3 separate regions of the Homo sapiens genome follow, and regions 1 and 2 are each linked to region 3. Evidence: fine-mapped expression QTL. A gene starts in region 3. Each other region holds a variant in brackets. All regions are shown on one strand. Distances are from middle to middle.

Region 1 (7,735 bases), 170 kb before region 3:
CTGGTGGGCACTCAGGACAGGCATTGAACCTGGTGTTGGTATGTATGTATGCATGTAGTATGTATGTATATGTATATATGCATCCATGTATTTTTTTTTGAGACAGAATCTTGCTCTGTTGCCCAGGCTGGAGTGCAATGGCACAAATATTGGCTCACTGCAACCTCCGCTTCCGGGATTCAAGTGATTCTCCTGCCTCAACCTCCTGAGTGGCTGGAACTATAGGCATGTGCCACCACACCTGGCTAATTATTTTTAGTATTTTTAGTAGAGACGGGGTTTACAATGTTGGCCAGGTTGGTTTCAAACTCCTGACCTCAGGTGATCTGCCTGCCTCAGCCTCCCAAAGTCCTGGGATTACAGGCATTAGCCATCGTGCCTGGCCTCATGTTTGTATTTTTGAGACAAGGTGTTACTCTGTTGTCCAGGCTGGAGTGCAGTGGTGCAATCACAGCTCACTGCAGCCTTGACCTCCCAGGCTCAAGCAATCCTCCCACCTCAGCCTCCCAAGTAGCTGGGACCACAGGTACCAGCCACCACGCCCGGCTAACTTTTTATTTTTTGTAGAGACAAGGGTCTCACTATGTTGCCCAGGCTGGTGTCAAACTCCAGGGGTCAAGAGGTCCACCCACCTTGGCCTCCCAAAGTGCTGGGATTACAGGAGTAAGCCACCAAGCCCGGCCTGGCATGGGCGTGTATTTATTTTGAGACAGAGTCTTGCCCTGTCACCCAGGCTGGAGTGCAGTGGCACAATCTCAGCTCACTACAACCTCTGCCTTTCAGGTTCAAGCGATTCTCCTGCCTCAGCCTCCTGAGTAGCTGGGATTACAGGTGCCTGCCACCAGGCCCAGCTAATTTCTTGTATTTTTAGTAGAGATGGGGTTTCACCATGTTGGTCAGGCTGGTCTCAAACTCCTGAACTCAGGTGATCCACCCACCTCAGACTCCCAAAGAGCTGGGATTACAGGTATAAGCCACCGCTCCTGGCCTTTATTTTCTTTTTTTTTTATTTTTGAGACAAAGTCTCATTCTGTCATCCAGGCTGGAGTGCGGTGGCACAATCTCGGCTCACTGCAAGCTCTGCCTCCCGGGTTCACGCCATTCTCCTGCCTCAGCCTCCCGAGTAGCTGGAACTACAGACGCCTGCCACCACGCCAGGCTACTTTTTGTATTTTTAGTAGAGGCGGAGTTTCACCACGTTGGCCAAGACGGTCTGGATCTCTTGACCTCGTGATCCGCCCGCCTCGGCCTCCCAAAGTGCTGGGATTACAGGTGTGAGCCACCGCGCCTAGCCTATTTTCTTTTAATGAGAACCTCAGCCAGGCACAGTGGCTCAGCCCTGTTATCCCAGTCCTTTGGGAGGCCGAGGCAGGAGGATCACTTGAGGCCAGGAGTTCAAGACCATCCTGGACAACATAGTGAGACCTCTGTCTCCGTTAAAAAAAAAAAAAAAGAGGAGACCTCATTGAGGGTATATAGGAAATGAAACTAAGATATAATATATTTTGGCTTTGTAAATCAATGTTTTCACATATTGGTTTTGTTAGATTTATTTTTCCATCAGTGAAAACATTTTTTGAACACAAATTCCTTTTCCAGTTAAATAATTTGTAAGTAAAGTTTATTCAAATGTATGTTAAAACATTTAATATTTGTCTTCTGAAGTTTGTCTTTATGTACATCAAGATATTGGTTGTCTTGTCTTAAATGTATCATTGGATATCACATATTCTATTCGTTGTTTAATAAGGGTAATGCCCATCTAGGAATGAATAGTTTTTTAAAATCAAAAACAAGACAAATGACACACTCCACGTGGCAGGTAAAAGGTTAATGAGCTTCACATATAAAGAACTTCTTCAAATAAATAAAGAAAAAACATTTAGGCCGGGAGCGTTGGCTCACGCCTGTAATTCCAGCACTTCAGGAGGCCAAGGTGGGTGATCACTTGAGGTCAAGAGTCTGAGACTAGCCTAGTAACATGGTGAAACCCTGTCTCTACTAAAAATACAAAAAAAATTAGCTCGGCCGGGCTTGGTGGCTCACACCTGTAATCCCAGCACTTTGGGAGGCCGAGGCGGGTGGATCATGAGGTCAGGAGATCAAGACCATCCTGGCTAACACGGTGAAACCCTGTCTTTACTAAAAAATACAAAAAATTAGCCAGGTGTAGTGGCGGGCACCTGTAGTCCCAGTTACTCGGGAGGCTGAGGCAGGAGAATGGCATGAACCCAGGAGGCAGAGCTTGCAGTGAGCCGAGATTGCACCTCTGCACTCCAGCCTGGGTGACAGAGTGACTCCGTCTCAAAAAAAAAAAAAAATTAGCTCGACATGGTGGCTCATGCTTGTAATCCCAGCTACTAGGGAGGCTGAGGCAGCAGAATCGCTTCAACTCGTGAGGCAGAGGTTGCAGTGAGCAGAGATCGCACCAGTGCACTCTAGCCTGGGTGACAAGAATGAAGCTCCGTCTCAAAAAAAAAAAAAGGAAAGAATATTTGACATGAAAATGAAAGGTATTTTTTATAATATAGTCAATACATTAGGTGAAAGAGCAGATTACACGACAGTATATATAGTGTGTTTATATTTTGAGAAAATATATATTTTGAATATTGGAATTATATACACCCAACTAGTAATGTTATCCATTGATTCATGGAATTACAAGTGACTTTTTTTTTTGCTTGTCCCTATTTTCCAATTTTTCTACAGTGACCGTACTTGCAATAATTAAACATAGTATGGTCATTTAAAATATGTGCCCAAATTCTCTGATACCCTCTTCAACGGCAGAGCCCAGTCCCTATCCCCTTGAATGTGAGCTGGGTTACGTGATTCCCTTCTGACAGATAGGAAAAAGCAAAAGTGATGGCTTGCAACTTTGCAAACTACATCATAAAAGGTACTGTGGCTTCCTCCTTGCTCACTCTTTGATTACTCACTTGGGAAAGCCAGCTGTCACACCATGACACCTAAGCAGCCTGTAGAGAGGCTCATGTAACAGGAACTGAGGCCTCCTGTCAGCAGTCACATGAGGGAGCCATCTTGGAAACAGGCTTTAGGTGACTGCAGTCTCAGTGGACAGCTTGAGTGCAATGTCATGAGACACCCTGAGCCCAAATGACCCAGCTATGCCACTCCTGAATTCCTGACCCACAGAAATGGAGATCCTAAGTAAGTATTTTATTTATTTATTTATTTATTTATTTATTTATTTATTTTTGAGACAGAGTCTCACTCTGTCACCCAGGCTGGAGTGCGGTGTTGTGATCTTGGCTCACTGTAACCTCTTCCTCCCGGGCTCAAGTGATTCTCCCCCATCAGCCTCCTGAGTAGCTGGGACCACAGGTGTGCACCACCACGCCTGGCTAATGTTTGCATTTTCTGTAGGGATGGAGTCTTACTATGTTGCCCAGGCTGATCTTAAACTGCTGGACTCAAGCCATCTGCCCACCTCGGCCTCCCAAAGTATTGGGATTACAGGCATGAGCCACTGTGCCTGGCCCTAAGTATTTATTTTAAGCCACTAGGTCTGGAGTAATTTGTTACATAGCAGCAGATAAATAATACACATATTTTCTATAGCGATCACATTTATAATTTAAATTGAATTAAAAAGGCTGGGAGCAGTGACTCATGCCTGTAATCCTAGCACTTCAGGAGGCTGAGGCTGGAAGATCGCTTGAAGCCCAGGAGTTTGAGACCAGCCTGGGCAATATGGCAAAACACCTTCTCTACAAAATACAAAAAAAAAAATTAGCTGGGTGTGGGCTGGACGCGGTGGCTCATGCCTGTAATCCCAGGACTTTGGGAGGCTGAGGCGGGCAGATCATGAGGTCAGGAGATCAAGACCATCCTGGCTAATACGGTGAAACCCTGTCTCTATTAAAAATACAAAAAATTTAGCCAGACGTGGTGACAGGCACCTGTAGTCCCAGCTACTCAGGAGGTGGAGGCAGGAGAATGGCATGAACCCAGGAGGCAGAGCTTGCAGTGAGCCGAGGTCACGCCACTGCACTCTAGCCTGGGCAACAGAGTGAGACTCTATCTCAAAAAACAAACAAACAAACAAAAATTAGCCAGGTGTGCTGGCGTGTACCTGTAGTCCCAGATACTTGGAGACTATGGTGGGAGAATCACCTGAGTCAAGGAAGTCGAGGCTGCAGTGAGCTGTGACTGTGCCACTGTACTCCAGCCTGCATGACAGAGTGAGATTTTGCCTCAAAAAAAAATTTTTTTTTGGCTGGGCGCAGTGGCTCATGCATTTTGGGAGGCCGAGGCAGGTGGATCATGAGGTCAAGAGATCAAGACCATCCTGGCCAACATGGCGAAACCCTGTCTCTACTAAAAATACAAAAATTAGCTGGGCATGGTGGCATGTGCCTGTAGTCCCAGCTACTCGAGAGGCTGAGGCAGGAGAATCACTTGAACCCAGGAGGCGGAGGTGGCAGTGAGCCGAGATCATGCCACTGCACTCCAGCTCAAAAAATATATATATTTTTTTAATTAACAAGTTCTAGTATCTAAAATGAGCAAAATCGTCACGTGTGGTGGATCACACCTGTAATCCCAGCAATTTGGGATGCCAAGGCATGTGGATCATCTGAGGTCAGGAGTTCAAGACCAGGCTGCAGTGAGCCAAGATTGCACCACTGCACTCCAGCTGGGGAGACAGAGTGAGACTCCATCTCAAAAAAAAAAAAAAAAAAAAAAAA[AG/G]TAAATATGCATTTGAAAAGAACAGCATCAGCCAGGTACAGTGGCTCACGCCTGTAATCCCAGCACTTTGGGAGGCCGAGGGTAGAGGATAGCTGAGCCCAGGAGTTTGAGACCACCCTGGGCAACATGGTGAAACCCTGTCTCTACAAAAAATACAAAAATTAGCCAACTGTGGTAGTAAACACCTGCAGTCTCAGCTACTTGGGAGGCTGGGGAAAGGATTGCTTGAGTCTGGGAGGTCGAGGCTGCAGTGAGCCATGATTGCGCCACCTCACTCCAGCCTGGGCAACAGAGCAAGACCCTCTCTCAAAAAAGAAAAAAAAACATGCAAAAAGAAAACAAAACAGAACAGCGTCATTTCCTTATCATTAGTTTGAAGGAAGGGAATCACTGGCAAAAGTTTCCATTTTCTTTTTTTTGAGATGGAGTCTCACTCTGTCGCCCAGGCTGGAGTGCAATGGCGCGATCTCGGCTCACTGCAAGCTCTGCCTCCCGGGTTCACACCATTCTCCTGCCTCAGCCTCCTGAGTAGCTGGGACTACAGGCGCCCACCACGACGCCCAGCTAATTTTTTGTATTTTTGTAGAGACCGAATTTCACCATGTTGCTCAAGCTAGTCTGGAACGCCTGAGCTCAAGGGATCTGCCCACCTCGGCCTCCCAAAGTGCTAGGATTAAGGGCGTGAGTTACCAGGCCGGCCCAATTACTTTCTTCAGTCTGAGCATGAGCACTGGAAGAAAAGCTCTCACTCACATGTAATTTTTTTTAGAGACATGGTCTCCCTCTGTCACCCAGGCTGAAGTGCAGTGGCGTAATCTCAGCTCACGGTAACCTCAACCTCCCGGGCTCCAAATATATATATATATATATATATATATATATATATATTTTTTTTTTTTTAGTTGGAGTCTCGGTCTGTCGCCCAGGCTGGAGTGCAGTGGCGCGATCTCGGCTCACTGCAGCCGCCGCCCCCCGGGTTCAAGCAATTCTCTGCCTCTGCCTCAGCCTCCCGAATAGCTGGTATTACATGTGCCCGCCACCACGCCCGGCTAATTTTTTATTTTTAGTATAGACGGCATTCACCATGCTGGCCAGGATGGTCTTGAATTTCCGACCTCGTGATCCACCTGTCTCGGCCTCCCAAAGTGCTGGGATTAAAGGCGTGAGCCACCGTGCCCGGCCCGATCGCTTATATTTTTAAAGAGATGTTTTCTTGGTTTCCTAGCCCCTCGTACCCCCTACAAAGTTCCAAAGGCTTTGATGTTGTTGCAAAGGCCATGAGAGGTCAAGCCGAGGGGTGCAGCTCCCTAATGCGGTGTAGCCTCAGACGGGGCCGATCCTGCCCAGAATGAGCGGCGCCGGGCGGTGGGGGACGCTGCCGGTGTCCCCGGGACCTGGCTGGGGGAGGAGTTGGGGGGGCGCACCTACACAGGCTCAGGTGACGCGAGTGTGCGGCAAGGGCTGTAGCCGGAGCTAGCGGGCTTGTGGTGGCCACTGAGGAGCTTCTGCCCGACAGTGCCCTCCGGGCCACAGCCGCTTGGTGCGCAGCGCCTACTCGCTCAGCGTCAGGCCCTTGCTGCGCCCTACGCCGCAGGCTGGGAAGTCGCGCAGGTAGCAGTAGTACAGGCAGTGGTAAAGCTCGTCCTTGTAGCTTATTGGTGTCGGCGGCCGAGTCGGAGCCTGCGGACACTAACCCGCCGCCTACTGACACTGACCGGCAGTCTGTGGCCACGCGTCTGCGCATGCGCTCTCCTGGAATACCCAGCCGCCGCGCCTCGAGTTCCGATTGGTTCTACAGAAGGGGCGCGCCTCCGCTGACGTCACAGGCGCGGGCCTTCCGGCGACGTAATAGCGCCGGCCTTCGGCGATGTCACAGTGACGCTACAGTGCCTGGAGCTGGGCTGTTTTCTCCTCGGTTTGGAGCCTGGTGACCGTGACTTCCCCGCCATGTTCTGTGTGTTGCTGGCTGGAGAAGGGTAGTTGACAAACTCCGACCCAGCACAGTGTTTCTGTGGGTCAAAACTAGAAAACTATGTCCGGGCTCCGCCGAGGCGGAAGGATCCCTTCAGGCCAGGAGTTAAAGAGCGGCCTGGGCAACATGGCGCGACTCCATCTCTGTAGTCCCTCCTCAGCTTCCCAGATACTTGAACCCCAAGGTTCAAGGCTGCAATGAGCTATGATCCCATCACAGCACTCTATCCTGCGAGACTGAAGTAAACCTTGTCTAAAAAAATAAACTATCCAAGTGTGCAACAGGGAGGGACCGCTTAAAGAAAACATGGTAATTGTATGTTCAAATACTTTTAACAAGTGCAAAATGTATAGGCTTAAATAAATAGGGCTGGCCGGGCGCGTTGGCTCACGCCTGTAATTCCAACATTTTGTGTGCCCGAGGCATTCCGATCACTTGAAGTCAGGAACTCGAGACCAGCCTGGCCAATATGGTGAAACCCCATCTCTACTAAAAATATAAAAATTAGGCCAGGCACCTTGCATCGTTTCAGGAGGCTCGCACCTCCCTAAGGGCCCGTTAATTGAACCCCTCGGACCTGAGGGTGAGAAACCTTGGCTTAGTTCTTCCCAGGGTGATCAGCCCAGGGGTAAGAGAGGAGAGGCCAGAAAGCAGGACCCATGAGAAGGGCCCCCTCCTGGAGTTTGAGGCCCATTCCTTCCTGCCCCTGCGTCTCCTCGGTCCAGGACTCCTCCCTGCTCTGCCCCACTCCTGGGGCCATGGCCACGGGGGGCTGCTTTTGGGTACAGGCCCCAGCGGCAACCCTGGGCCCAAAGTGGGCAGGCTCACCTGGAGGGGATCAGAGTAAAATGGCAAGAAGCGAGGGGAAAAGCCGCCCTGGAAGCGCGCCTCTCTGCCCCCTGACGTCAGTGGGTGCACTCTTCCCTCACCTCACTCAGGCAGCGGCATGAGTTACCTGGGAGCACTGTCCTGCTCCCTCTGCTGCCTCTTTTTAGTCTTGGGGCTACCATAACACTTTCCCTTCCCCAGCCCTCCCAACCTGGTGGG
Region 2 (8,518 bases), 53 kb after region 3:
AACAGAGTGAGGTCCTGTCTCAAGAAAAAATTAGGCACAGAAAAAGGCACATGTCAGAATACCAGCCAACTAGATCTCCCCAACTCTAAATAGAGCAGACCTGACTTTTATTATAAATTAGGTCTCTACATGTTTTCATTATTATAAAATACAACATACAGAGAAGGGTAAAAACTATGCATGTATAGCTTGACCACGATTCCCTGTCAATTTCGGTAGCTGGCTGGTTCCCACCAAGGTAGCAATCAAGGGCAACAGCTCCAGTCCCTCCCACACACCACTGAGCAAGATGGACAAATAAATCAGGGAGCACACAGGCTGGGGGGCACTGGCAGGAGCCTCACCAGCTTCTGAAAGGGAGAATGACGCAAGAACACAAGGGCTCTCTGAGGCCAACCATTTGCAACACTGGAACAGGTTATCTTCCAGGAAGTATTTGCAGTTTTGCATTTACTGTTTGCAACTTCTGGTCCGTAAAAAAGATTGAGCAACCAACTCAGCACTGATATTGGGGTGAGTCAGACACCCCAATCAAAGCAGTAACAAGAAAGGAAAGAATAAAACTTGTAATTTAGTCAACCCTTTAGCTGTCACTGTCATGTCAGGGCCACCTAGACAAGGCTCTGGCACCAGGGGCTGCACCTTCTGGCTGCAGGGGGAGCGGGGTCATTCAGGTTCACAAGCCCCTCTGCCAAGGTTTAGTGGCTTCAAGATGAGGGAAAACCCTCATGGAACCATACCCTACTGTTGCCTGACAGCGCAACCCACAGGGACTGAGAGGTACTCGGGGAACACTACACTCTCCAAGGTGACCTGTTAAAAAGCAGTGTCCAAGAGTGACTCAGACAGATCGCTCCACAGCCACAATAGCCAGAGTACCCAGGAAGTTTATTATCTGTACTGAGATGTTGGTGCAGATTTCTTTGTGTTTACCTTCTGTGGGGTTCACTCAGTTTCTTGAATCTGTAGATTTATGTCTTTTGCAAAATATAGCAACTTTTCTTTTCTTTTCTTTTTTGTTTTAGGAGACAAGGTCTTGCTCTATCACCCAGGCTGGAGGCATAGTGGTGCAATCACTGTTCACTGAAGCCTCAACTTTCTGGGCTTGAGGGATCCTCCGGGCTCAAGGGATCCTCCTGCCTCAGGCCTCCTGAGTAGGTGGGACTACAGGTGTGCCTCACCACACCTGGCTAATTTTTGTATTTTTAGTAGAGACAGGGTTTTGCCACATTGCCCAGTCTGGTAATGAACTCCTGAGATTCTGCCCACCTCTGTCTCCCAAAGTGCTGGGATTATAGGAGTGAGCCACCGTGCCCGGCCGCCATTATTTTTTAAATAACTTTTCAGCCTCACTCTCTTTCTCTTCTTCTCCTGGGACTTGGGTGACATGAAAGTCAGATCTTTTGTTATTAGTCCCACAAAATCCTGAGGCTCTGTTCATTTGTTTTGTTTTGGTTTTCAGTCTATTTTCTGTTGTTTAGGTTAGGTGATTTCTACTGCTCTAACTTCAAGTTCATGGATTCTCTCTTCTGTCTCCTCCATTTTGCTGTGGAGTCATCCATTCAGTTTCCTATTTTGACTATTGTATATTTCGGTTCTAAGACATCTGTTTCATTCTTCTCTATATCTTAATTCCAACATCTGTGTCATCCTGATGCTGGTGTCTGTTGACTCTCTTTTCTCATTCAAGTTGAGAGTTTTGTGGTTCTTGGTATAGTGATTGATTTTTATTGTATTCTGGGCATTCTGGGTACTTTAAGATCCTGAATCTTATTTAAGCCTATTTTATTTTTGAGACAGAGTCTGTCTCTATTGCCCAGGCTGGAGTGCAATTGTGTGATCTCAGTGCACTGCAATCTCTGCCTCCCAGGTTCAACTGATTCTCATGCCTCAGCCACCAGAGTAGCTGTGATTACAGGCGTGTGCCACCACGCCTGGCTAATTTATTTTTTTGTATTTTTAGTAAAGACAGGGTCTCACCATGTTGCTGGGGCTGGTCTCAAACTCCTGGCCTCAAGTGATCCACCCACCTTGGCCTCCCAAAGTGTTGGGATTACAGGTGTAAGCCATTGCACCCAGCCTTTTTTGATTTTATTAAATATTGTCTGTCACCTGCTTATAGGGAAGGAAGGTATCAGTTCATTGCTGTCAGGCGAGATTCAGTCTCCCTCCTGGGCCTCTGCTGACAAACCCTAGCTTGGAGAGGGAAGACAGCACATGATCTCCACTGACACATGGGGTGGGGCTCCCTGGTTCCGCCAGGTGGTGATGAAGTCCTGACTCACACTGGGCCTCCTCTAATGTCACTCCCAAGGAGAGCACGTTTCCTTGCTTCCTTGAAGAGTCGAGGTTTCCTTGGCTATTTTTTTTTTAAGTTGATAATTCTCCCTTTTGCAAATTTCCCTTAAAAGATGTTGCAGGTATGAAATAAGACTGAGCCACAGGAGACGCGCAGCCCTTTGGACTTTCCTGCAATTTCTATAGCATTCGCTCATATCTTGGAAGCATTTACAGGGAAGCCACCAAGAGGGTTTAAGAATGCAATTCCTTGGCTCTTGATGAATCTAAAGACGTTACCAATACTTTTCAGTTGTTGTTTACTTGGGGAGTCAATACCAAGTTTGAAGAATTAGCATGAAACAACTACAAATAAGAGCATTTTCAAAGAAGTTGAGAAAAGTTTAGTACAATCTGAAATGGAATCCACTAAGATGTGTTATAATGAATGTGGGGGGCAGAAAAAGGCTTAGTTGGAGCCTATGGTTGTTCACTATATTATTCACCAGCAGATATTATGCAAAAAATTTGAATCTATTATATGTGATCGAACAAGGGAATGTCAACAGTATCTGCTCTCATGGACTTAACCTAAGTTGGTCTTAAGGATTTTTGTCAAAAATAGAAGCTGAATATCCTAACTGGCCTACCATACAGCAGTTCAGCAGCTTAGCAGTGGTAAAGTCTGGTGTGACTATTTTGAGCTCAGAGTGAATATTAAATCTTTTCTGAACAAGAATAACTGAAAAGTACTGCCCTCTTAGTCTAAAAATAAAAATAAAAAATAAAAAAAGAGAGGGCCGGGCACGGTGGCTCATGCCTGTAAACCCAGCATTTTGGGAAGCCGAGGCAGGCGGATCACAAGGTGAGGAGATCGAGACCATCCTGGCTAACACGGTGAAACCCCATCTCTACTAAAAATACAAAAAATTAGCTGGGTGTGGTGCCACGTGCCTGTAGTCCCAGCTACTCAGGAGGCTGAGGCAGAAGAAACACTTGAACCTGGGAGGTGGAGGTTGTAATGAGCCGAGATCATGCCACTGCACTCCAGCCTGGGTGACAGAGCAAGACTCCATCTCAATAAAAAAAAAAAAAGAAAAAGAAAAAAGAAAGAACTGCCCTCAACCACTATTACCAAATACTAAATCGCTTTGGAAATTAGCTTTTGCTGCAGACTTGATGTTTCTTAATGAGGCCAATCTAAAATTATAAGGCAAAACAGCAGTTATATGCAAAACTTATATTGCGGTAAAGTCATTTCAATGAAATTAACATTGTATGAATCACAAGTAATGTCAACCTGCGCCATACAATTCCTAGACTGTCAAGGTTAGAACAAGTGAAAAACCTTTGCACATTTTTTTGAGCTCAAACCTTGAGCTCAAAAAAAACAAAAACTTTGAGCTGCTAGTTCTAGCCCTAGCAGCGTTTTTCAGATCTTGATCTAAGTATGAAGGAAATTCCCATATTTTAAAATCCATTTAACTGTACAATTGAGCAGCTCTCATCTAACCTTCAATTGGAAGTGGCTGATCTGCAATGCAATAATGCAAAAAGGCAAATATCAAGAGGGGAATCTAAAAAAAAAAATCTATAAATGCTGTCTTCCAATGATTAAAATGCCCCATCAAAATTTATGCTCCCTGACCAATATAACTTGGCAGTACCTATTTGTGTGAAAAGATATTTTCAAAGATGTCACCTATACAATCTCATTACAGATGAGCACTGACACGGGGATATTTGCAACAGATTTTGATGTTTGGGAACACTAATTCAGAACCCCAATGAAACAAAATTGTTTTCTGTTTTTTGTTTTTTTGAGACTGGGTCTTGCTTTGTCACCCAGACTGCAGTGCAGTGGCACAATCGCAGCTCACTCCAGCCTCAGCCTTCTGGGCTCAAGTGATCCTCCCACCTCAGTCTCCACAGTAGTTGGGACTACAGGTGTATACTACCCACCATGCCCAGCTAACTTTTTAAATATTTTTTTGTAGAGACAGGGGTTAGCCATGTTGCCCAGGCTGGTCTCAAACTCCTGGACTCAAGCGATCCTCCCACCTCAGCCTCCAAGAGTGCTGGGATTAGAGGCGTGAGTCATGGCACCTGGCCCAAAATTGTTATCCCTACAAAAATCATTCCATTCTTCTTATTAACAAACCTGTATTAAAAACTTGCACTCAACTGTTATTAGTTATTACTCGAATTTCTTTTAAAAATATATATTTCAAATTATAGAGACAGGGTCTGGCTAAGTTGCCCAGGCTGGTCTCAAACACCTGGGCTCAAGCAATTCTCCCGCCTTGGCCTCCCAAAGTGCTGGGATTACAGGTGTGAACCACCGCAACCAGCCTTATTTGAATTTCATCAACAAAAAACATGGAAACTTGTTGCCTCTC[A/G]TTATATATAACATCCTAGATTTTACTTCTTGGCATGCAAAGCCTAAAAAATATTTATTACCTGGCCTCTGACAAGAAATAAGTTATTAGCGCCTACTCTAGATAACTGAAGTGCACCTAGTTACCGGAGCTCTGTACTGACTGGGCAGTACAGATGCCGGAGGCTCTGGTTGTGGGAGTCTGAACGGGTTACTTGACCTCCCAGGACTCAGGTTTCTTCTCCACAAAGCAATATGGAGCTGGTCACCAAGGATCATCCTCAGCTCTAAAATTCTACACAGCTAGAGAAATACTTCCGGAATACGTGAACCATGTCCATGCTGTCTCGAGTCCACGCACGGTTCCTTTTGTAGACTACTCGGCCATCGTGTCATTGTACAACATACTTAGGGCCTAAAGAGGCAGGAGAGGTTGCTTGCACACAGAGGGAACCCAGGCTGTGGGATCTCAGGTTCCTGCATCTTTTTGGTCTGTTTGCTTGTTTTGAGAGACACAGTCTCACTCTGTTACCCAGGGTGGAAAGCAGTAGCATAGTTCACTGCACCCTCATACTCCTGGCCTCAAGCCATCCTCCCACCTTAGCCTCCCAAGTAGCTGAGACTATAGGTATGCACCACCTCACCGAGCTAATTTTTTAAAAACTTTTATTTCTGTAGAGATGGGGTCTCGCTTGGTTGCCCAGGCTGGTCTCAAACTCCTGGGCTCAAGCGATCCTCGCACCTTGGCCTCCCAAAGTCCTGGGATTCCAGGTGTAAGCCAGCACACCCGGCCCCTGCATCTTTGTTGTTGATAGTGTTTGTCTTTTCTTGAGGCAGGATGACCCTCACCATTATGAGAGTGCCTACGTTTTTTCTTTTTTCTTTTTTGAGATGGAGTCTTGCTCTGTCGTCCAGGCTGGAGTACAGTGGCGCAATCTCAGCTGACAGCAAGCTCCGCCTCCTGGGTTCACGCCATTCTCCTTCCTTAGCCTCCTGAGTAGCTGGGACTACAGGCGCCTGCCACCACACCCGGCTAATTTTTTGTGTTTTTAGTAGAGATGGGGTTTCACCATATTAGCCAGGATGGTCTCGATCTCCTGACTTCGTGATCCACCTGCCTCAGCCTCCCAAAGTGCTGGTATTACAGGTGTGAGCCACTGCACCCGGCCACGAGAGTGCCTACGTTTTTTTTCAAAAGTCTCTCACCCATTTCTAATTGGCTGCTTTGAATCTGCGTAAATTGGGAAATCAGCTGCTTGTTAGCGTGATATCTAAGATAAGAGTAAGCCAGGCACAGCGGCTCACGCCTGGAATCCCAGCACTTTGGGAGGCTGAGGCAGGTGGATCACCTGAGGTCAGGAGTTTGAGACCAGCCTGGCCAACATGGCGAAACCCCATCTCTACTAAAAATACAAAAATAACTAGCCAGGCGTGGTGGTGCGTGCCTGTAATCCCAGGTACTTGGGAGGCTGAGGCAGGAGAATCACTTGAACCCAGGAGGCGGAGGCTGCAGTGAGCCAAGATGACACCATTGCACTCCAGCCTGGGCAACACAGTGAGACTCCGTCTCAATAAATAAATAAATATAAAATAAAATAAGAGTAAAGAGGTGGGGAGCGTTGGCTCAGGTCTGTAGTCCCAGCTATTTGGGAGGTAAGGCAGGAGATCACTTGAGCCCTGCAGGTTGAGGCTGCAGTGAGTATCCCTGCACTCCAGCCTGGGCAACAAAGCAAGACCCCATCACTATATAATAAGAGTAAAGAGGGCCAGGTGCGGTGGCTCACGCCTGTAATCCCAACACTTTGGGAGGCTGAGGCGGGTGGATCACTTGAGGTCAGGAGCTCGAGACCAGCCTGGCCAACATTGGGAAACCCAGTCTCTACTAAAAATACAAAAATTAGCCAAGTATGGTGGCGCACCCCTGTAATTCCAGCTACTCTGGAGGCTGCTGAGGCAGGAGAATCACTTGCACCTAGGAGGTGAAGGTTGCAGTGAGCCAAGATCATGCCACTGCACTCCAGCCTGGGCGATAGAATGAGACTCTGTCTCGAAAAAAAAAGAAAAAGAGTAAAAGAGTAAAGAGGTTCTTTGAAGACTAGCATCTTCTGTATTTAAAAAAAAAAAAAAAAAAAAAAGCTGTTGAGTAGGGCCTGTGGGGCCTTCTTATTCACAGACTTTGTGAAATCCATTCCAGAAACTCTGAGTTGCTTCCGGATTCTCAGATGTGCTAGAGATGTACTCCGAAAGCCTTGCAGGCCACGGCTCTGTGTGGCTAAAAGTACTGAGCACTCCCACCAAAGCAGGCCTGGAACCCGCACGAGGGCTCCGCTGGCCTGTGAGGCCCAAAGCACTAAGGATGCCAGGGAGTGCGAGGCAGGCAGGCTCCTAATCCCACAGAGCTTACAGTCTGGAAAGCCTCTAGACAATGTTCAGGTACAAAAACGTCATGTCGAAGGACATGCTTCTGTCACTCTTACGTCCATGCGTGCAGCAAACAGCTGAGGAGCACCTGCTGCACTCCAGGAACTGTGTGGGTTCAGGCAGGAGCAGACATGCCAACCTTGCCCCAAGGTGTCCTCCTGCTATGAGAAAGGGCAGACCTATCCCAACAGTCACGGCTGCATGGGGAGGCCAGGTGCAGGGGAAATAGAGCTGGAAGGAAAAAGCAGGCATGACAGTCTGAAACAGTCAAGGAAGGGGCTCCCAGAGGCCAACATCTGGGCTGGATTGTGAAGAATGATCAGGGTCCACCAGTCAGATTAGGGGGATGAGCGAAGCTACCGATAGAGGAAGCGTGTACCAGAGCCTAGAACACGAGAAACTCGGGGTCTGGGGTAACTCAAGTGTGGTGCAATGGGATGTGTTTTTATGTGGGGATGCATAGATGGCGAATAAGAGATAAGCATTCATTCATTCACGGAACAGGCTGGAGTCACCAAGGCTGCAGTGCAGTGGTGTGATCACAGCTCACTGCAGCCTCTAACTCCTGGGCTCAAGCAATCCTCCTCCCTCAGCCTCCTGCATAGCTGAGACCATAGGCATGCACCACCATACCAGCTGATTTTTTAAATTTTTTTGTAGAGATGGGGTCTCACTAAGTTGCCCAGGCTGGTCTCAAACTCCTAGGCTCAAGCAATCCTCCCATCTTGGCCTCCCAAAGTGCTGGGATAACAGGTAAGAGCCACCACACTCGGCCGAGATAAACTTTTAAGAGACACCCAGATGAGTGCGTAAGGGCCTAGGGGCCTGTATGCCAGTCTAAGGTGTTTGGCCCTGGGGAAGCTGGTGAGGACAGGGCAAGGGGGTGCTGTGATCAGAATGCTGCTACAGGAAGGTACTACTGTACAACGATGCCTGCACCCCTAATATCAATGCAGTCACGGGGCTTTCACCAAGGTATCCTGGAGAACATTCTCCACTGAAGATGGCCATGGCCAAACGCTCCCAGCTGATGGCCTTTTCCCCACACAACAGGACTTAATTTAGAAACACATGACCAGCATGTGCCCGATGCAATGACGTGAAAGGAGGAAGGCAGCTGCTGAGTCAGATCTGTGCAAGCGTGACTGGGGGGACAGGAGGGACAGCAGGCGAACAGTGGGCATGACTCAGCACAAATCGAACTGACCAGGCCCACAGGGGCTGATGCTGCAGCTGCAGCTCCCCGTGCCTGCTTCTAGCAGCATCTCTGCGGCCTTGGCTCCTTGGCTTGAATGCCAAGGGGACGAGACCACAGCTCCCCTAAGCTCCAGGGCATTGCATGGATATAATCCAGCGTCAACATTAAAAGGTGGCACAAGGTGATTTACAGGCACAAAACTCTCCACAGGAGTTCACGCTGGTTCATCCTCCTGACCATCCCCA
Region 3 (8,257 bases):
GAGTAACTGGGACTACAGGCATCTGCCACCACTCAATTTCTTTAATATATGTAGGCCTATTCAGATTGTCTGTTTCTTCTTGTGTGAGTTTTGGCAGTCTGTGTCTTTCAAGGAATTGATCAATCACATTTGTGGATATGAATATTCTTCTATTATCCTTTTAATGTCTGTGGGATCTGTAGCAATGTCTTCTCTTTCACTTCTGTATTAGTAATTTGTGTCTTCTGTTTAAGTTAGCCTGGCTAGCGGTGTATCGATTTTATTGATCTTTTCAAAGAACCGGCTTTTGGTTTTTTTGATTTTCTCTATTGATTTCCTGTTTTCAATTTCATTCTTTGCATGGCGTATCTAGTTTTCCTAGCACCATTTGTTGAAATGACTGTCCTTTTCCCCCATCGAATGGTCTTGGCATACTATCAAAAATTCCTTGACAGGCCCGGTGCAGTGGCTCACACCTGTAATCCCAGCAGGTTGGGAGGCAGAGGTGGGCAGATCACCTGAGGTCAGGAGTTTGAGACCAGCCTGGCTGACATGGCAAAACCTCGTCTCTGCTAAAAATACAAAAATGAGCCAGGCGTGGTGGCACATGCCTGTAATCCCAGTTACTTGGGAGGCTGAGGCACAAGGATCACTTGAACCCAGGAGGCGGAGGTTGCAGTAAGCTGAGATTGCACAATTGCACTCCAGCCTGGGCAACAGAGTGAGACTCAGTCTCAAAAAAAAAAAAAATTGCTTGACCATATAGGTAAGGGTTTATTTCTAGGCTAGGCTGGCTATTCTATTCCACTAGTCTCTTTGTCTTCATGTCCATACCATACTGTTTTGATTACTGTAGTTTTGTTAGACTAAGGTTTGAAATCAGGAAGTGTGAGACCTACAACTTTGTTCTTCTTAAATATTTTTTATGGGGTCCTTTGAGATTCCATATGAATTTTAGGATGGATTTTTCTATTTCTACAAAAAATGTTGTTGGGATTTTGATAGGGATTGCCTTAAACCTGTGGATTACTTTGAGTTGTATTGGCATCTTAATAATATTAAGCTTTCCAACCCATGAACACAGGATGTCTTTTCATTTGTTTGTACCTTTAATTTCTTTCAGCACTGTTTTGGAGTTTTCAGTGTACAAGTCTTTTGCCTCCTTGGTTAAATATTTTATTCTTTTTGATGCTACTGTAAATGGAATTGTTTTCTTAATTTCCTTTTTGAATTGTTTAGTATATAGACATGCAACTAATTTTTGCATGTTGGTTTTGTATCCTGCATCCTTGCTGAATTTATTAGCTGTGTGTGTGTGTTGTGTGTGTGTGTAATCTTTAGGGTTTTCTACATATGAAATCATGTCATCTTCAAACCAGAGGTAAGGTTACTTCTTCCTATCCATTGTAGATGCCTTTTATTTCTTTTTCTTGCCTCATTGTTCTGGCTAGGACTTCTAGGACTATGTTGAACAGAAGTGATGAAAGCAAGCACCCTTGCCTTGTTCCCGATCTTAGAGGAAAAACTTTATCTTTCGCCATTGAGTGTGATGTTAGCTGTGGGCTTCTCATATATGGCCTTTATCAGGTTGACATCACTTCCTTCCTTTTTTGTTTTTGAGACAGAGTCTTGCTCTGTCACCCAGGCTGGAGTGCAGTGGTGCAATCTCGGCTCACTGCAACCTCCGCCTCCCAGGTTCAAGCAATTTTCCTGCCTCAGCCACCCAAGTAGCTGGGATTACAGGCATGTGCCACCATACTTGGCTAATTTTTGCATTTTTTTAGTAGAGACAGGGTTTCGCCACATTGGCCAGGCTAGTCTCGAACTCCTGACCTCAGGTGATCCACCCGTCTCGGCCCCCCAAAGTGCCAGGATTACAGGCATGAGCCACTGTGCCTGGCCATTTCCTTCTGTTCCTAGTTTTAGGCACCACTCTTGCCTTTCCCTTTTTCGTTTGTCCTCAATCCAGATGGAGACCAGGTGCTCACCCTCCTTCATGCAGCAACACTTCCTGTACTTTAAGGTGGATGCCTGAAGGAGGGCAGCTTGAATTTTCTTCTTCAGAGAATTTGCCCACAGTTCTCTTCCTCTTTCCATTAATTTGTCCAGTCACAATGCAAACCTTTGTTGAGACTGCACTAGGCTTGGCATAGTGTTTGCCATCCACAGGTGGTTTCATGTATATTGTCTTAATCTTCCCAGAAGCTGTTTGAAATAGGAATTATTTCTGTCACCAGATTTAGAAGCAGAGGGGCTTGCCCAAGGCAGAGTCAGCTCCCATGACTCCCAGCACTGATGCATTCATGCCAGGCTGCCCTGTTTCTGCATCCAGCCCTTAAGCCGTGTTGCTGGCACTGTGCAAGTGCCTCCTGTCTCTGAAAGCTGCCTCTGATCCAAGTGGAAAGGGCCCAGGACCAATCGTGAAGTTCACTTTCTCTCTTTGTATTCATAGAGGTCCTGGGCCTATGTCAAGAAGTGCAAAAACAACATGTGTCCAAATCGGGGATTGGTGAGCCAGCTGCTGGAATGGGAGAAGACTATCCTTGGAGATTCCATCACAAACATCATGGATCCGCTCTACTGATCTTCTCCGAGGCCCACCGAAGGGTACTGAAGAGCCTCACCTGGGGGCATTTTGTGGGTGGAGGGCCAGAGTGTGTATACCCAGGCTTGTCTGGAAGGAGAAGGCCTTTGCTGCCTGAAAGTCTCATGTTAGCCTCCTGTACTGATTCTTCCCAAGTGCCTGTTCACGCCACCTAGCTGATGCGCCCTGCTCAGGTTCACCAAGAACCCGCATCCCTGAGGTGTCGCGGGCCATCCCAACTGCACCCCTGAGGCTGCCTCTGGAAGAGCATCTGGCTGCTAGAGCAGCTGCCCTGCATCCCCCTGGTGACTTAGACCCTTTGGAGGCTGCCTGGGGGTACCCAGAGGTTGCCTGTGTTGGTTCACAGAGGATGTCACAATAGCCACCAATAGGCAGTCCCCTAGTCCCAGAGATACCAAGCCCAGCCTTGTCTAGCCCCCAGGCTCCTAGAATGGGATCACACCCTTGCCTCATCCCCAGCGCTTCCTGCCATCCACCCCTTGAAACAGATTTTCTTTCCCTGCTCCCCACTCATTTCTGCCTGGCTGTGTTCACCAAGGAGAGATTCTCACCCCCTCCCCCATCTCCCTATCCACGTTTCTAGAAATTCCTAAGGTCTTAAAAGTTTTCCTTTTTTTTACCCCCTTTCCTTTTTTTTGGAGGCACGGTCTTGCTGTGTCTCTCAGGCTGGAGTGCAGTGGCGCAATCATGGCTCACTGCAGCCTCAACTTCCCTGGGCTCAAGCGATCCTCCCACCTCAACCTCCTGAGTGAGTAGCTGGGAATGCAGGCATGCACCATCACACCTGGCTAATTTATTTTTATTTTTGTAGAAACAGGGTCTTGCTCTGTTGCCTAGGCTGGTCTCGAACTTCTGGGCTCAAGTGATCCTCCAGCCTCGGCCTCCCCAAAATGCTGGGATTACAGGTGTGGGCCACGGCACCCAGTTGGAAGTTGTTTTCCAAATGCACTTCTCCAAAGCTGGCAGCACCCACAGAACAAACTGGGCATCAGGAGACGGCACAGACTAGGGGACTGGTAGGGGATTAGGATGTCCATCCATGCAGGACCTTCCCCAAGTCCATTCGGCAACCATTCCCTGCCACCGCGTGGGTGGGGCTGGGAACAGAGAGATGAATGCCGTCCCACCACTTAGCGCGCTCTGTGGAGGGATGGGGGTGGGAGGGGGTGGGGGATTCCCCTCAACAGAAGGGCAGGCCTTCAAGGAGGAGTGGGGTTTTGCCAGAGGGGGAACGGCTTTACACACAGCCCTGGCTTTCCTCAGGGTGTGAGTTGGGACAGAGCCCGGGATGGCTGCAGAGCTCCGATTAGGGACCTCCTGGTAGGCAGGACACAGCCGCTGGAAAGTTTTAAGCATGAACATGATGGGGAATCAGCCTTGTGTTTTGGGAAGGGCAGTCCGGTGGCCGCGAGAAGGGACAGTGGAGGTGAGGCAGGGAGAAAGGAGGCCGCTGTAAAAATCCAAGCGAGAGAAGCAGCTCTAACTCCCTTCCCCAAAGAGGCTCAGCTTCCCAAGGACGAAAATGTTGCAAGCAGGTGTCACCTCCCTGCACCTTGGTTTGCTCTCAGCATGACGGGCCAGAGCCCTGCTGGCTGCACCACGCGGCTGGCACAGTCAGTGCAGTCCAGGCCCGGGGGCTGCAGCCGTCCCAGTCCCGGTCCAGGCCGCGAGTCCCGGGGCTAGCAACCGCCCTTGCATACGGCCCCGCCCATACCCCGCCCCTGTCCCGGATTGGCTGGGGTGGGGGGCGTGGCCTTTCCCCATTGGTGCCCGTGGCGGCGCGAGCCCGGAAGCGGACGGGGGCGGTGGCGGAGGAGCCTCGGGTGGGCCGGGGTTGCTGCGCCGTCCTCCACTACTGGCTACTGGCGCTGCAGCCATGCAGCCCCCGCCCCCGGGCCCGCTGGGCGACTGCCTGCGGGACTGGGAGGATCTACAGCAGGACTTCCAGAACATCCAGGTTAGCGCCGCTGCGGACGCCGGGTCGCCCCCGAGCCGCGTCTCGCTGGCTCAGGGTCAAGGGTCGGGCAGCCCTGGGTCAGGCAGTGGGGAGCTAAGGGTCAGGGGTCGGGGCCCTGGCGTCACTGCCAAGGGGGGCGAGGCCCCTGGTCCTGGTGTCCACTGCCACCACCTCCAGTGTCCGGGAACCCCGGCGGGACCCCATCGCGCTGGGCGACCTCGGCTTCCAATGAGGGCCTTGGAAAGGGGCCCAGACCCCGACCCCGTCCCTTCCCAGAAGAGAGCGGCCGCCTGAGTCACACACGGGCGGGCCCAGCCTTGGGTCAGCCACTCAGCAAACGCGCAGCGGGCAGCGCCCGAGAGGCAGCCCAGGTCGGGGGAGCAGCGTTTAGGGGGGTGTCCTCGGCCTGGATGGGGGACGCCCCAGGCAGAGGGATACCGCGCGCCGCCGAGGCCTTTGGAAGGAAAGAGGGGACTTGACAGGCCCATGTGGCTGCATCAAGGAGAACCAGGGGAGGGGTGGGACGGGTGGGAGGGGTGGGCGGGGCTAGGCCCTGCAGGGACGCTCTGGCCTGGCAGAGATCAGAGTCCCTCCGAGGCCAGTGGAAAGCTACGGGAGGAATTGTCTGGACTGAGCTCCCCAGGGCCACCGTGGCTGTTCTGTCCAGAGGCCAGGGAGGAGGAGGCTGTTGGCCTCATCCAGGCAGGGAAGAGGGCGGTGGCTGTGGGTGGGCAGAAGTGGCACGTGCTGGGGTCCGAGGGGGCGTGGTGACCCCTCCTGGGCATGAGAAACAAGATCCAGACAGAGTAGAGCCCTGGCCAGCTGATGGCTTGGTTAGCCCTTGGCCTCTCCTGGACTGGTTCCAACTGCTTCCTGTGGGCATTGAAACCCAGCTGCCCCTGGCCCTGCCAAGGCCCCTGCCATTGGTGCTTCTCCCCAGAGACTGAGCAGACCCAGTCTCCCCGCCTGGCCGCCGCTGTCCTGGCCACAGCCCCTGCTTGGCTCTCCTCACACTGCCCCTTGCCCCATCTCTAGGCTGCGCCTTCTTGAGACTCACCTACCAGGGCAAAGTGCTTGGGGAATCCTTGGGCCAAAGGTGCTAGGGGAAGGGAGTGGGGCTGGCCTTAGAGCAGGAGGCTCTAGGGTTGAAACCTGATGACCTTTAACCTGGGAAGAAGATGTCAGGGATTCCTGAGAACCTGAGCTCCTCCTGTACTGGAAGGCTAGATAGGCAGGAGGAGCTGAGAGGATAGAGGGGTGGCTCTGGGCTGCCTGCTTGGTCCAGGAGGTGGCCCTGGGGGCCTAAGCTCCAGACTCAAGGTAGGAGAAAGAGTCTGTCCTTGTAGGGTGGGGACAACTAGCAGATGGGCTGAGACTAAGAAAACCTTGGCTGGGTGCGGTGGCTTATGCCTGTAATCCCAGCACTTTGGGAGGCCGAGGCAGGCAGATCACCTGAGGTCAGGAGTTCAAGACCAGCCTGGCCAACATGGTGAAACCCTGTCTCTACAAAAATACAAAAATTAGCCAGGCATGATGGCAGGTGCCTGTAATCCTAGCTACTTGGGAGGCTGAGGCAGAAGAATGGTTTGAACCCGGGAGGCGGAGGTTGGAGTGAGCTGAGATCCTGCCATTGCACTTCAGCCTGGGCAACAGAACAAGACTGTCTCAAAACAAAAACAAAAACAAAAACACCTAGTCTGTTTTTGGAGGAGGGGTGCTGTGGGGGTCTCTGGGCTCACAGGAGGACACCCAGGTCCTTGCCTGCCTTGGGGAGACAGCCACCTCATCCCTGGGCAGGCACAGTTCTACCTCCTTTCCCGCTGAGCGAAACCCTCCCAGCAGCCCTGGGGGAGCCTGAGCGCCACGTCCTGCCTGCAGGCTCTGGCTCAGTAGCTCCCCAACTGGCCTGAGCCTCTCCCCTCCGGCCCCCAGGAGACCCATCGGCTCTACCGCCTGAAGCTGGAGGAGCTGACCAAACTTCAGAACAATTGCACCAGCTCCATCACGCGGCAGAAGAAGCGGCTCCAGGAGCTGGCCCTCGCCCTGAAGAAGTTAGGATCCCCTACCCCACCCGCCATGGGCAGAGTGTGGGGTGGGAGGGCTGGCGCTGTGAGACCCTGGGCACCGCCCCTCCCCTCTCTGGGCCCTGTTTGCCCTTCTGCCCCTGTGGGAGTCAGGGAGGACACTTGGGAGTCCTCTTGCCCTGACTGTTTCTGGCCTTACCCGCAGATGCAAACCCTCCCTCCCAGCAGAGGCCGAGGGGGCCGCACAGGAGCTGGAGAACCAGATGAAAGAGCGCCAAGGCCTCTTCTTTGACATGGAGGCCTATTTGCCTAAGAAGAATGGGTGAGGGCCCCCACCGCCACCCCCAGCTCAGTTCACAGCCACTCCTGAAGCCGGGTGCTGCCTCCTCTTGGTCATTATAGTCAGCAAATGTTCCCTGGGCCCAGTACAGGCTGAGCAATGAGGCACAGTGCTGACTTCAGGGGAGACACCTGGCTGAGAGTGACATTTCACTGTGATAGGTGCTTTGTAGCATGGGGAATGAGGTGGCACAGTGAGGGACACCTGACCCAGTCCAGGAGGTCGCAGAAGGCTTCCTGGATTAGGGGATGGGTGGGCTGAGTCTTACAGAATAAAGAGTGGGCCGGGCGTGGTGGCTCTCACCTGTAATCTCAGCACTCTGGGAGATGGAGGTGGGAGGATCACTTGAACTCAGGAGTTCAAGACCAGCCTGGGTGACATACTGAGACCCTATGTCTCTATTTATTTAAAAAGAACAAATAGGCTGGGCGCGGTGGCTCATGCCTGTAATCCCAGCACTTTTTTGGGAAGCCAAGGCAGATCGCTTGAGGTCGGGAGTTCAAGACCCGCCTGGGCAACATGGTAAAACCCATCTCTACTAAAAATACAAAAATTAGCCGGGCATTGTGGCATGCACCTGTAATCCCAGCTACTTGGGAGGCTGAGACAGGAGAATCACTTGAACCCGGGAGGCGGAGGCTGCAGTGAGCTGAGATCGCACCACCGGACTGTAGCCTGGGCAACAGAGTGAGACTCTGTCTTAAAAAATAAATAAGTAAATAAATAAAAAAAATGAGGCAGACACATGGGCTGAGGGCGAGAGGTAGCAGCAGGTGGACGGGCCATGAGAACTTGTAGTGGCCAGAGGTCGGGGCGGGAGGTGAGAGGCAGCCAAGAGATCAGAGGCTTTGCTGGGCTGCAGCTCTTGCCTTGAGCCCAGTAGGCGGGCGGGGGCGGTGGAATGTGCACCTGGAAAGGCCAGCAGCTGTCACCCAGGAGGACGGATGGGGCAGTGCAAAACCCCCTGCTGAGCAAAAAATCCCAGCAGAGGCTGCAGGCAGGGAGATAGCTGGGAGAGGGCGTGGCCCAGAAGGCAGGGAGAAGAAAGGAGTGTCCGTAGCCTGGGGTCAGTCCTGTGATAAGGAAGGGGATGCGCTTCCTGGAAGTTGGGTCATCTTGGCAGAACCATTTGGTGGAAGGGGATGGATGTCGATCTTGGGGATGACAGAAGAGCCAAGGAAGGGAGACAGCCAAGTCTAGGAGACTTTTTTTTTTTTTTTTTTTTTTTGAGACAGAGTCTCACTCTGTCGCTAGGCTGGAGTGCAGTCACTTGATCTCGGCTCACTGCAACCTCTGTCTCCGTGGTTCAAGCGATTCTCCTGCCTCAGCCTCCGGAGTAGCTGGGATTACAG

Direction of the effects. Alleles are on the strand shown, and positions count from the first base shown. SD is a standard deviation of normalised expression in the study named. Not every link is listed here.
For the expression in subcutaneous fat of the gene that starts at base 4,436 in region 3, allele G in region 1 goes with a lower level than allele AG (large effect, 1.3 SD a copy in FUSION).

The links. PIP is the estimated chance that this variant, and not a neighbour inherited with it, causes the effect.
Region 1: its variant is the best candidate, but not a certain one, in a credible set for the expression of TMEM120A in subcutaneous fat (FUSION, PIP 0.87).
Region 2: its variant is the best candidate, but not a certain one, in a credible set for the expression of TMEM120A in whole blood (TOPMed, PIP 0.71).

What each region holds. Positions count from the first base shown.
Region 1 is chr7:76,165,423-76,173,157 of GRCh38, reverse strand. No RefSeq gene overlaps it. Among named protein-coding and RNA genes, the nearest start is that of SRRM3, 33 kb to the left of the region's middle. The variant AG/G (reference allele first, on the strand shown) is at 4,716.
Region 2 is chr7:75,937,808-75,946,325 of GRCh38, reverse strand. The region is part of intron 1 of POR (cytochrome p450 oxidoreductase); the gene reads right to left. It overlaps SNORA14A (small nucleolar RNA, H/ACA box 14A), which reads right to left and starts at 2,543; the gene lies at 2,410-2,543. The variant A/G (reference allele first, on the strand shown) is at 4,677.
Region 3 is chr7:75,990,774-75,999,030 of GRCh38, reverse strand. It overlaps TMEM120A (transmembrane protein 120A), which reads left to right and starts at 4,436. Exons shown (of 12, transcript NM_031925.3): 1 at 4,436-4,541; 2 at 6,474-6,592; 3 at 6,771-6,887. The coding sequence starts at 4,461. It overlaps STYXL1 (serine/threonine/tyrosine interacting like 1), which reads left to right. Exons shown (of 9, transcript NM_001317785.2): 9 at 2,432-2,689. The coding sequence ends at 2,563. RefSeq lists silencers at 4,195-4,644, 4,655-4,714, 7,706-8,000 and an enhancer at 6,896-6,955.